3 linked regions of the Homo sapiens genome follow. The protein of the gene in region 3 purifies or fractionates together with the protein of the main gene of each other region. This does not show direct contact. Each region holds a gene or a part of one and is shown on either strand. Other genes may lie near its edges. The genes, in order: FDX1, ABCA2 and GPATCH8.

Region 1 (3,748 bases), on a different chromosome or scaffold from region 3:
TGTCTATAAGAACTTTGTGCCATAACAAAGATGTTCTACACATACTTGCAATGTCCAATACAGTAGCCACTAGCCACATGTGGCTACTGAGAACTCGAAATGTGGCTAGTGTAACTACGAGATTGAATCTTTAATTTTATTTACCTTTAATTATGTTAAACTTCAATAGCCACATGTGATTAGTAGTTACGGTAGTTACAGCACAAGTCTCATTAACACAGTAAGAACTGGAAAATCCAGTTGTAGCTCCAAAGTCTGTAAGAGGAATGATAAGACCATGAATAGAAATTGTGCCAATAAAGAGGGCAGCAGGATTATGAGGAAATAGACGTGCTCCCCTTTAAAACAACCTGACATATCCAAATCCAAAAAACAAATCTGAGAAAGATAACTCCCAATTACTACAAAAACATTCATGTTCCCTTATACCAGTTACACAAGCATGTTCAATATCTGTCCCAATTGATTCAGTTGTCCAAAACTCATCCATTGTATAACAGAAAGCAAGGTACCCACACTGGTCAAAGACAGGGGGGGAAGTGCAGAGGAAACAGGAACAAATAAATCTGGCTTGCCTTCTCCCTGATTTCCCCCAAAGTTCACACAACAAAAATGTATGGAGCACCCACTAGATAACGGGATTAGTGGGGAAAAGATGACTGAAAGTCTTAGACCCTGCTCTCAGAGACCTCAAAAAGAAACTAGACAAAGCAGCGTACAAATCCAACACACTCTCCCTCTAGTTCTCGATTCCTGCTACCCTACATCATGCGGTCAAAGAGCTGTCGAGAGATCTGCATTATATAAATCGCCACCATGTTGGTAAAAATTATGTGTAAATTGTATCTCTAGTATATCTAAGGAGTGTCTTTGAAAAACAAATATGCCCAAGAACCTAAAACTTCAACACATTTGGGATAAATTGTCACATTTCTTTCAATATTTAATACAAAACTCTCTTAACATTGTGAACCTAAGAAGCTGCTGCTGCTGCTGCTGCTGCTGCTGCTGCTGCTACCAAGTGGCATCTACTGAGCCCTCATTACGTGCTAGGCACAAGACTACCTGTATCGCTGTATTAACTCATTGATTCTTCAATTAACCATAGGAGGTCTACACTGTTATTATATCCAACTTGCAAATGGAGAAACTGGGTTCCTAAGGACTGACCAAGTTAGGCACGTCAGACAATCAGTGCCAAAGCCAAGTTTCAAGTCCCGGCAGATTACTTCAACGCAGGGGCTTTCAACACTTGAGCAACTAGCAAAGGGCCTACAGGGCAGCAGAGGGTATGGGCTGGGTGTATTCTACCTGGACACCCCCTGACAAAGACCTGGGACCTGGGTGTCCTCTCAAAGCAGGGCAAGGCCCTGAAAAAAACAGCTGGCAGGTGTGTCAGGCCAGGACAGCAGGAGGGAAGCCTGTCGCGAAGGTCACTGCCAGTTTCGGGCAGAGCAAAGGTCAGATCCCAGACAAATCACACGGAGAACAAGCAGCAGCAAAGTCCCGGCTTTCCTCAGGGCACGGGAAGCGCTGGGAAAGGGAGCTGGGCGTCCAGGGTCCCCGATTCCCGCCGGGAGTGGGTGATGCGGAAAGGAACTCTGCGGTGCGACGGAAGGGAGGCAGCGACGCCACCGAGCAGCGAGACGGAGCCGCGAGAGCACCCCAGAAGAGGGGGGCGAGAGGCAGGCCTCCGGGGTGTGGGCCCGGCGCGCAGAAGGCACTGGAACCAGAGACTCGGCCCAGAGAGCCAGGCGCCACCCACCGGGGACCCCGGCCCGCGCCGGCGATCGCGCCCGCACGGCGCCCTACCTGCTCCGGGCCCGCGCCGACACGCTCAGCGACCGGCTCGCCTCCGCGCTCCCGCCCGGCCCCCGGTTCCTCAGCAGGCCGCTGGATCCAGCGCGGGACCCAGCGTGGTGCAGCCACCGGCCGGCCGGGCCGCCGAGGACAGCAGAAGCGGCGCGCAGCAGCCGGGCGCCCCCAGCGGCAGCCATCGCCCGCGGTCGGGAACTGCCGGAAGCGACGCAGGCCGCGCTTTGAGGCCGCGAGAGACTCCAAAGAGGCGGGGGCGGCAGCTGCGGCGCAGACGCCCGAGGGCCGCGGCGAGGGGCGCGGGGCTGGAGTGGCGGAGAGACCCTGCTGGAAGCACCGCGCCGAGGTTCCGCGTGCCTTCCGGGTGACCTATAAAGACATTGGCAAGCAGAGCGCGGCCCCGCCCCGCCTCTCACGCCCACGCCGCCCGGTCCCATGGGGCGGGGCCAGCGCAGGGGGCCTTTACCAACCCTCCAGGTTCCGTTGTAAGCTGGATGCTTTTTTAGCGGCTGAAGTTGCCGTGCAGAAACAAAATATTTTGAAAGATAGCTGGACGTCTAGCGGAAATCGGTTAGCTAGACCACTGTGTTCTGTTCCGCATACCCCCATCCCCTAGCCGTTAAAAAAAAAACTGGGAAATTGTGTCATCTTGGAGTCAAGTTAGAGCAAAGTGAATTCTGCCCACTGTAAAACAAAAACAGTGGGAAATTTTGGAAAATCTCAGAATGCTATTATACAAAGAAATAATTATGACTATAAAATTGTAAATGAAATTAATGAATAGGCTTGGGGCTCCTGCAGAGGACAGGTAGCCATCCTAGACCTTGACTGGCAAGTAAATGCTGGCTGAGTACATGAAACCCACGAGACTGAACCGGAAACTTTGTGATGAGCTGAGATCTCTAAAAGACTTTCACAAAAAACAGAAAAGATGAACTTTAAAATACACCTTATCATGGTTCATATGTTGTGGGAAATGCATGGGCTTTAAGGTCAGAAATAGCAATGTTCAGATCCAAGATCTACTGCTTTAGAGATCTGAGACCTTGGAAAAATTATTCTCATGGAGGATCAGAGTTTCCATAACTCTCAAACACAGATAAGATGTTCCAGCCTTCAGGGCCATTCTGATGTTAATCTAATACGCAATGCACACCGTGCGTCACAAACCAGGAAGGCTACCGCTTCCTGGGCCTTCCTCCATCAGGGTACTCATAAAGAGGCTAAAGGCCAAAGTCAAGGGGATATTGCAGATATGCTAAACACAATCAGATACTTTTTTTTTCTTTTTTTGACATGGGGTCTCTCTATTCTGCCCAGGCTGTAGTGCAGTGGCGAAATCTCGGCTCACTGCAACCTCCGCCTCCCAGGTTCAAGTGATTCTCCTGCCTCAGCCTCCCGAGTAGCTAGGACTACAGGCGTGTGCCACCACACGCCACTAATTTTTGAAGATTCAGAACAAGAAAGTGTAAGCATGAGTAAAGTATCTGCGGACAATGTATGGTGCTTTCTGGAACCCAATGGCAGAGAGAAGGCAGTGGCTCCTAATTGCCTCAAATCGTTGGATGAAGAGAAAGTCTTTCAAGCTGCGAAGGGCACAGCAAACCCTGACAAGTAATCTTGAAGAGGAGGTTGTAAAAGAACAGCTAACTTTTGTTTTTAGTAAGACCAAACTTCCAAGGTCGGATGAATTAGTTGTAGGAAGAGAATTGAAAAGAAAAAAAATCGTAGATGTTCTGTCTTCTCTCAGCCCTCCTGTAGCAAATACAGTTTCAACTCCCTTAAGGCACTTGATAGCTTTCTGCTTTGTAGGGTAGTTATTCGTACACATAGAGTAGTTATTTATATAGTTCATCTTAGTGACTCCGACAGCACCAGCTACAGGGTCTTGAACATATCAAGGGTCTAATAAATATTGGTGAATAAATTGATG
Region 2 (3,648 bases), on a different chromosome or scaffold from region 3:
GGCAGGAGCCAGCAGCAGCTCCTGGGATGGGCACAGGGGTCCGTGGAGCCACGGCAAGGACTTTGTCCCCAACCACTAGGGCCTCAGGCCTCACCCTGCCCCACCCACTGGCTGGCTCTGGGGCTGCCTGGGTCCCACGACATGCCTCTACCCCTCATGCCTGCCATAGACCCCTGGGACCCTCCCCCTCTCCCAGGAGGAGCTCCAAGTCACCAAAGGGGCCCTTTCCTCACCCACGGAGCAGAAGCACCCCCAGAGGCAGGCAGCACTCCAGGCCCATCCCACACATGGATGCCCTCACCTCCATCCGGAACAGGGGATTGCCCCCTAGGCGGCTCCAGGGCTCCTGACCCTTGTGGAGGCCAGACTGTGAATCCAGGGCAGATGAGGGACCAAAGAGCAGGTGGTAGACCTAGGAGGTGTGGGGGAATGGCTCAGATGGGGTGTGGGGGGCGTGGCTCAGATGGTGGGGGCGTGGCTCCGATGGACGTGTGGGGGCGTGGCTTAGATGGTGGGGGCGTGGCTCAGAGAGTGGGGGCGTGGCTCAGATGGTGGGGGCGTGGCTCCGATGTAGGTGTGGGGGCGTGGCTCAGATGGTGGGGGCATGGCTCAGAGAGTGGGGGCGTGGCTCAGATGGTGGGGGCAAGGTTCAGACGGTCTGGGCGTGACTCAGGCTGAGCATCCTGAGGATGGCTCAGCAACCAGGGGGCGTGGCTGGGGCAGAAGGGAGTGGCCAGGGCTGGGAGCTGTCCCTGCCTTACCTCGGGCGGGTCCACACGGGCGGCCAAGAGTGCTTGGGCCGTGCTATTGGGCAGCGACAAGTTTTGCGTCAGGAAACGCCAGAGCTCCTGCGGGTTTCTGGCCACCGAGTCCAGAGAGAAGGAAGACACTGGACAGGCAGGAAGGCGAGGCTGAGAGGCCGCTGCACCTTGGCAAGGTGCCCCCACATGCGCTCGGAGCCGAGCCCAACACCACAGCTCTGCCACTGCAGCCTGTGCGTGGCTGGGAACTCAGTGCAGGTGGAGGGGCCCAGAGTGGATGTGGGCTTCAGCCCAGTGACAGCAGAGCTTTGCCCGCAGCCCTGCCCCCCAACTTCCCTGCACAGGGCACACCTGTGGATCTGTCCAGGTGGCTCCCCGAGGTGCCCGGGCCCGCACTGAGGGCCTCCAGATGCTGGCGTAGGGCCTCGAGCTCTGAGCCCAGGCTGGGCCGCGCTGGGTCAAACAGGTTGCCTTCCTCCACCACGCGGTCCAGGCGCTCAAGCAGCTGCGTGACCCTGCACCATGGCGGATGTCACTCACTGGATGGGCTGGGGAGGGGTGGGTGCTCCGAGGGGCGGGTGGGCACTCACGTGGAGTTGGCGTACTGCAGGAAGCCGAACTCGTCTCGCTGGCCGTCCGGGCACAGCGATTGCATGACAGGCAGGATGCCGGCAGACGTCAGGGGCGCCGCTGTGTAGAAGGCTGGCAGACCCACGGGAGAGGGCAGGGTCGGGGGTGAAAGGGGAGAGAGAGAGAGAGGAATCCAGAAGGGGAGGGAGACAGAGGCCGAGAGGAGAAATTTAGAGAAAGTCAGGAAGGAGAAGCAGCGTTAGGGAGAAGGCGGCACAGAGCCCTGGCCCCAGCTGGGCTACAGGCCAAGCGTTCTGGGGCGAATGACTCCAGCAGGTCAGAGGTCAAAGAGCCACTCACCACCCCTTCTGCCATAACTCCCAGAGCATTCCTTTCCTTTCAGCCAGTGCAGGCCCACATGCCCTGGCACTCTCCCCCCGAAAACGTTTCAGGTGTGGCACTGCCTACAGAGCCCAGGGGAGGACAAAGGACCCCCTCTGGGCAGTGACCTCTGACCTCTGGCCAGCTGGTTAGCAGAGTGAGTGCAAGAGCCTGAAGGAGTATGAAGGGAGAGTAGCCAGGCCGCTCCAGCCCCAGCCCAGGCCAGCCCAGCCTCAGCCCAGACTCAGCCCAGAAGCCGAGGCACCCCAGCCCTAGAAGGCAAGGCCAGGCAGAGAGATGCCGCCTCAGCTTGACCCAGGCACCAGCTGTGCCTTTAGGTGGCCGGGCCTTTCACTCCCTACCACCTCCCACTTCACTGCCTGCCACCCCCCATCTGGAGCCAGCTGTTCCTGAGGCCGGCAGGGGGCCCGGGAGGGCTGTTAATGCAAGCGGGGAGGGCGCTCAAGCCAGGACGGCCCATGGGCCCCCCGCAGCTGCTGCCCAGGCCAGCCAGGAGGAGGTGGCCGCTCACTTACAGACTGCATGCCAGCCGAGGACAAGAGACCATGCGGGGAGGGAGGGGGATCAAAACAGAACAGAGGAGACCAGTGAGTGCCCACATCACCAGGAAGAGGCGTTGGCATCATCATTCGCGGCCACAGGCCAGCCCCGACCTCCACAGCCCAGCCAGGAGGCACGGCCCAGGACCACACAGGGGAGCAGGCACCGCACCTCAGGGACTCCGGGAGCAGGACACCCGTGTGCAGATGTGCACACACAGCGCAGGCGTGCGAGGTGCCGCGCTCCCCCGGCTGTGCCTGGGGCCTCCTGCCGCACTCACCTTCCTTCACGGAGATGGTGGGCTTCTTCTGTCGCAGCCCCAGCAGGATAAAGAACAGCACCAGGGGGATGAAGATCTCGAAGGCCAGGACCCACTGGAAAGGGTGGGCCCAGTGAGGGATAGGACAGACCTGTGCTCGCCTAGGCCCTCCCCAGCCTCCCATAGGGCTGGCCCAGCCCAGACAGGACCACGTGCTCCCTGGGGCCAGGGAAGGTGGGCACAGGCCCTTCGGAACCACTGAAGGTCTGAGCCCCTTCCAGGGCACTGAGGGTAAGGATTGTCTGGCTCAGCAAATCAGGTTTCCCGTCCCCAGCCCACACTGGGCCTACGTGCCCTCTGAGGAGCCTCAGGGCCTACAGGGACAAATCGGCCAGCTTGTGGTCTACTCTGACCCATGTATATCCCAGCTCATCTTCTCCCTCCCCACCTCCAGGGCTACCTGGGCAAAATCTTGGGGACCATCTGAGCCACTAGCCCCGCCTACACTTCCCACACTGCCCCGGGTTCACCTTCCTCCCACTTCCTCCCCACCAATACCGGGGCCTGGGGAGATGAGGAGGCCTGGTTGAGAGGCTTGGCCTGCGCCCAGGGCCCTGAGCCTCGGAGAAGACCTGGTAAGGGGTCTAACAGCCCCAGTCCCTGAAGCAAAGGCACCTTTTTTTTTTTTTTTTTTTGAGACGGAGTCTCACTCTGTCACCCAGGCTGGAGCACAGTGGTGCGATCTCAGCTCACTGCAAGCTCCGTCCCCCAAGTTCACACCATTCTCTTGCCTCAGCCTCTCGAGTAGCTGGGACTACAGGCGCCCGCCACCATGCCCAGCTAATTTTTTGTATTTTTAGTAGAGACGGGGTTTCACCGTGTTAGCCAGGATGGTGTCGATCTCCTGACCTCGTGATCCGCCCACCTGGGCGTGAGCCACCACACCTGGCCCAAAGGCACCTCTTTCTGCCCTGTCCCCTCTCCTGACCCGGGGCAGCCAGTCTTGGGCCTTGGAGCTCAGTTTCCCCAGGTCGGCTCCTGCTAACCCAGGCTGGGCACCAAGGTGAGCCCTAGTGGGACCTGCGTGGAGTGAGAAAGAGGTGCTTTGCTCACTTC
Region 3 (3,648 bases):
CAAAAAAGTGTAATACCACAACCAGCTTACAAATTCTTCCAGTTCTAGTAAGAATAAAACTTGGTCAAAGATTGCCTTTTACCTGTGCACTGAAATCTTATGGTTGGTGGAAGATGAAGGCTAAAAAAAAATCTTAGTTCAACAAGTCCAGCTTAGGAGACATCATTCCAATGCTCATAAATTTACAAGTTTAACAAATACAACTATTGTACCCCCCAAAAACCTAGTAAGTTATGTTAAAGTCACCCAAGATCAAATGGCTTGAAATTCTTTAACAAGCCAGAACTGTCCTATAGGTGTAACAATTTATTTTTCCCTTCTAAACTCTCCCAGGGGGATTATTGCCATCTTCTGTATATCAGTAACTAGTTAGGTACAATTTTCTCCTCTAAAATGATGGGGTGGCGGCGGGGGAGGGGGCAAAGACTGCAAAGTGTAATTCATTTATCAGCTCTTCAACATGCAGCAACAGAGTTTTTTGTTAAAGTTAAGATAGCATCTAATTTTATTTTCCTTCTCAAAATTTATCTAACTTCCAAGGTATATTGAATAGCAAAATGACTTAATAATAGAAAATGGTAGCCAATAAAGCATGAAATCTTATGTAGGGAACTTGAAAATAACAGTCTGCTGAATAACTCTTCAAAGTTTAACGCGTTAAGAGCAGAAATGGAAACAAAGCTCCCAGTGACCCTCAGCTGAATTACAAAATTAAATAAAAACTTAGAAATCAATAAAAGGCAAAAACATTATATAAGATTTACAAAACACAATTTGTCAAATAGTGTATATGTGGGAGTGTGGGCTGGAGGTGGTGTCTATGTCAGGATTTCTGCCACTGAAAAAACAAAGTGTGTTGGATGACTGCAGATAAAGATTGGCAGACACAAGAAATCATAGACACCAAGTTTTGGGGGGTATACTCATAAAATCCAATTGTTGTAACAATAGATAGGTACCTTCTTCTGTTAGCAAGTAACTACAACTCACCTGCTTGTGTGCATGATCATAGGAGTTGATATGGTTATCAAATTCCTGATGTTTCTGATATTGCTTATCACACAGTTCACAATAAAAGTTGGCTCTGAGGTCTTCCAAGGCTTTGGCAATTGCCTTCTCTTTGTCAACATAATCCTTCAAGACCCATGAAATACAAAGAAACAAAAAATGAACTTGGTAAAACTTTAAGTGAATGTTATAGAGAAAACAGTCTATCTGAGAAGACAAAAAAGGGCTTTTCATAATATTTAGTGGTACCAGTAAAAGCTGGATGAAACACAAGTGGTACTTTGGTGGGTAATCTGTGTGTCGTCATACTAACAATTGTCTTCAAATAAACAAATGTTTAAAAGGACTAAGGATGCTCAACTGATAAGTATAATGCAAATATTCCAAAACCCCCAAAAAATCTGAAATCTGAAACACCTTTGGTCTCAAGCATTTTGGATAAGGGATATACAACCTGTATTAATAGTCTAGTTTTCAGACACGAAGGAAAAAAGCATTACCTGAGTCTGTAGCCAATGATGGAGTTAAATATTCTATGGTCATTCTACATATAAGCTGCACTGCTTGGAAAGCCAACCCACAGATATGTGTTATCTGCTGGTCTCAGCGAGATTGAAAACTGTGGGACTCTTACATGTGAGAGGAGGTTGGAGAAAAACAACAACAACAAAAAACTGTGGGACTGACTCAAAGGCAGTCCAATTTGCCTCAGCAGTTTCACTTAAAAACTAGACATCAAAAGACATCTCAAAAAGGAAAAAAGAGAAAACAATTAAAAGATACCTCAAAGCAAGTTGAGTATATTCATTTGCTAATGTCGCACAGAAGGATGAGAAAGGGACAGGAATGCTAAGTGACTACTTGCTTGACTTTTAGAGCAGGGTAGATGCATTACTTTCATAATGAGCAACTCCTTCTAGCAGACTGACCTAAAAAAGATAAGTCTTATCTCAAAGACTATATCTACAGTTTCAAAGCAGCTCTATCATCTCCCATAAGAGCTACTTAATCAGTAAACAAGAAAAGGTTATTATTTTCTGGAGTGGCAGTACTGAACTAATTTGGACAGACTTATTAAAACTGAAAAGTGAGTATGTGTAGCACATTGTTATTTTTGCCCTATCTAATCCTTCACAATAATTTTCTTTGACAGTCCCGGACAGTTTCATGTTGTTTGGCTATTAAACGACTTGTGGCTTTTTTGCCCAGGCTGGAGTACAGTGCAGTTCATGGCTCACTGCAGTCTTCACCTCCTGGGCTCAAGCAATCTTCCCACCTCGGCCTCCCAAGTATCTTGGACTATAGGCGTGTACCAGCAAACCTAGCTAACTTTTGTATTTTTTGTAGAGATGAGGTCTCACTATGCTGCCAAAGCTGGTCATGAACTCCTGGGCTCAAGTGATCCTCCCACCTTGGACTCCCAAAGTGATGACATTGCAGGTGTCAGCCCCCACACCTGGCTGCAAATTTAAGCAACAAAACTAGAGTTCCTGGTATGAATACAGCAGTATAGGAAAACAGCTTTGATTTTCTTCTTGGGTATCATAAAAACAAAATTATGAATTAAAAAAACCCCACCAACTGCATTTTCAGAAGAACTGGGCAACAGATATGATCTGGAGTATGAAAAACACACAGAAGGAAAGTTAAGCTCTTTATAGAACCTGAATGAGGGAAATGTAGTAGAAGCCAGACAAGGCAAAGCTAAGCAATATCAAAAAAGCCAAAGGTGGCAATTTCAGAAAATGGCAAAACATATATCCTGTACATAAAAGGATCCTCTGAAATGAATATACCTACATCTCTTGCACTCATCAAGAATTTCTGAGATCTGGGAAGAACAAAGGGATGAACTTGGGTTAGGGTGGATGAGGAAACATTTGCAGTACAAAGAATGCACATAGAGAAAAGCAAAAAGTTCTGCCCAATTGCGGCAGATCTAAGAAAAGGCTGAGGCCAGGTGCGGTGGCTCACGCCTGTAATCCCAGCACTTTGGGAGGCCGAGGCAGGCAGATGGCTTGAGCTCAGGAGTTCAAGACCAGCCTGGGTAACACAGTGAAACTCCGGCTCTACCAAAAATACAAAACATTAGCTGAGCATGGTGTCACTTGCCTTTGGTCCCAGCTACTTGAAAGGCTGAGGTGGGAGGACCACTTGAGCCTGGGACGCAGAGGCTGCAGTAAGCCAAGATTGCGCCACTGCACTCCAGCCTGGGTGACAGAGTGAGACCTTGTCTCAAAAAAAAAAAAAAAAAAAAAGGCTATCAGCACATGCTCACTAAAGGAAGATCCACTCAACTACACAGGACAAGAAAGGGCACATAGTGTGACAATGAAAATGGTCCCAGAACAATCAGTGACAATCAATAGTGTAGTAAAGTTATTGAATCTTAAAGACAGACTCCTTTCAGCAGCTAGGCAAAAACAATCAAGAAGGGGAAGATCAGGCCAGCCTTTGATCTCTTCAACAACACACACACACACTCTCTCTCTCTCTCTCTCTCTCTCTCTCTCTCACACTCTCTCTCAACTCCAGAAGACAGTGGTACAATAAATACTATAAGATATCTAAGGAAAGAATTAACTTAGGATTTTATATGTATCTTTCAAATATAGGGAATACATACACGTATATATGGAG

Evidence for each region.
Region 1: the proteins of GPATCH8 (region 3) and FDX1 purify together in Homo sapiens (affinity purification with mass spectrometry; one large-scale study listed by BioGRID and IntAct). This does not show direct contact.
Region 2: the proteins of GPATCH8 (region 3) and ABCA2 purify together in Homo sapiens (affinity purification with mass spectrometry; one large-scale study listed by BioGRID and IntAct). This does not show direct contact.

Annotation. Positions count from the first base shown.
Region 1 is NC_000011.10:110,428,370-110,432,117, reverse strand, and holds the start of FDX1 (adrenodoxin, mitochondrial precursor), read right to left. Parts: upstream 2,171-3,748; 5' UTR 1,998-2,170; coding exon 1,813-1,997; intron 1-1,812.
Region 2 is NC_000009.12:137,021,590-137,025,237, forward strand, and holds part of ABCA2 (ATP-binding cassette sub-family A member 2), read right to left. Parts: intron 2,648-3,648; coding exon 2,554-2,647; intron 2,252-2,553; coding exon 2,249-2,251; intron 1,464-2,248; coding exon 1,352-1,463; intron 1,277-1,351; coding exon 1,113-1,276; intron 890-1,112; coding exon 762-889; intron 413-761; coding exon 302-412; intron 22-301; coding exon 1-21. UniProt on the Homo sapiens protein: Probable lipid transporter that modulates cholesterol sequestration in the late endosome/lysosome by regulating the intracellular sphingolipid metabolism, in turn participates in cholesterol homeostasis.
Region 3 is NC_000017.11:44,423,359-44,427,006, forward strand, and holds part of GPATCH8 (G patch domain-containing protein 8), read right to left. Parts: intron 1,135-3,648; coding exon 991-1,134; intron 1-990.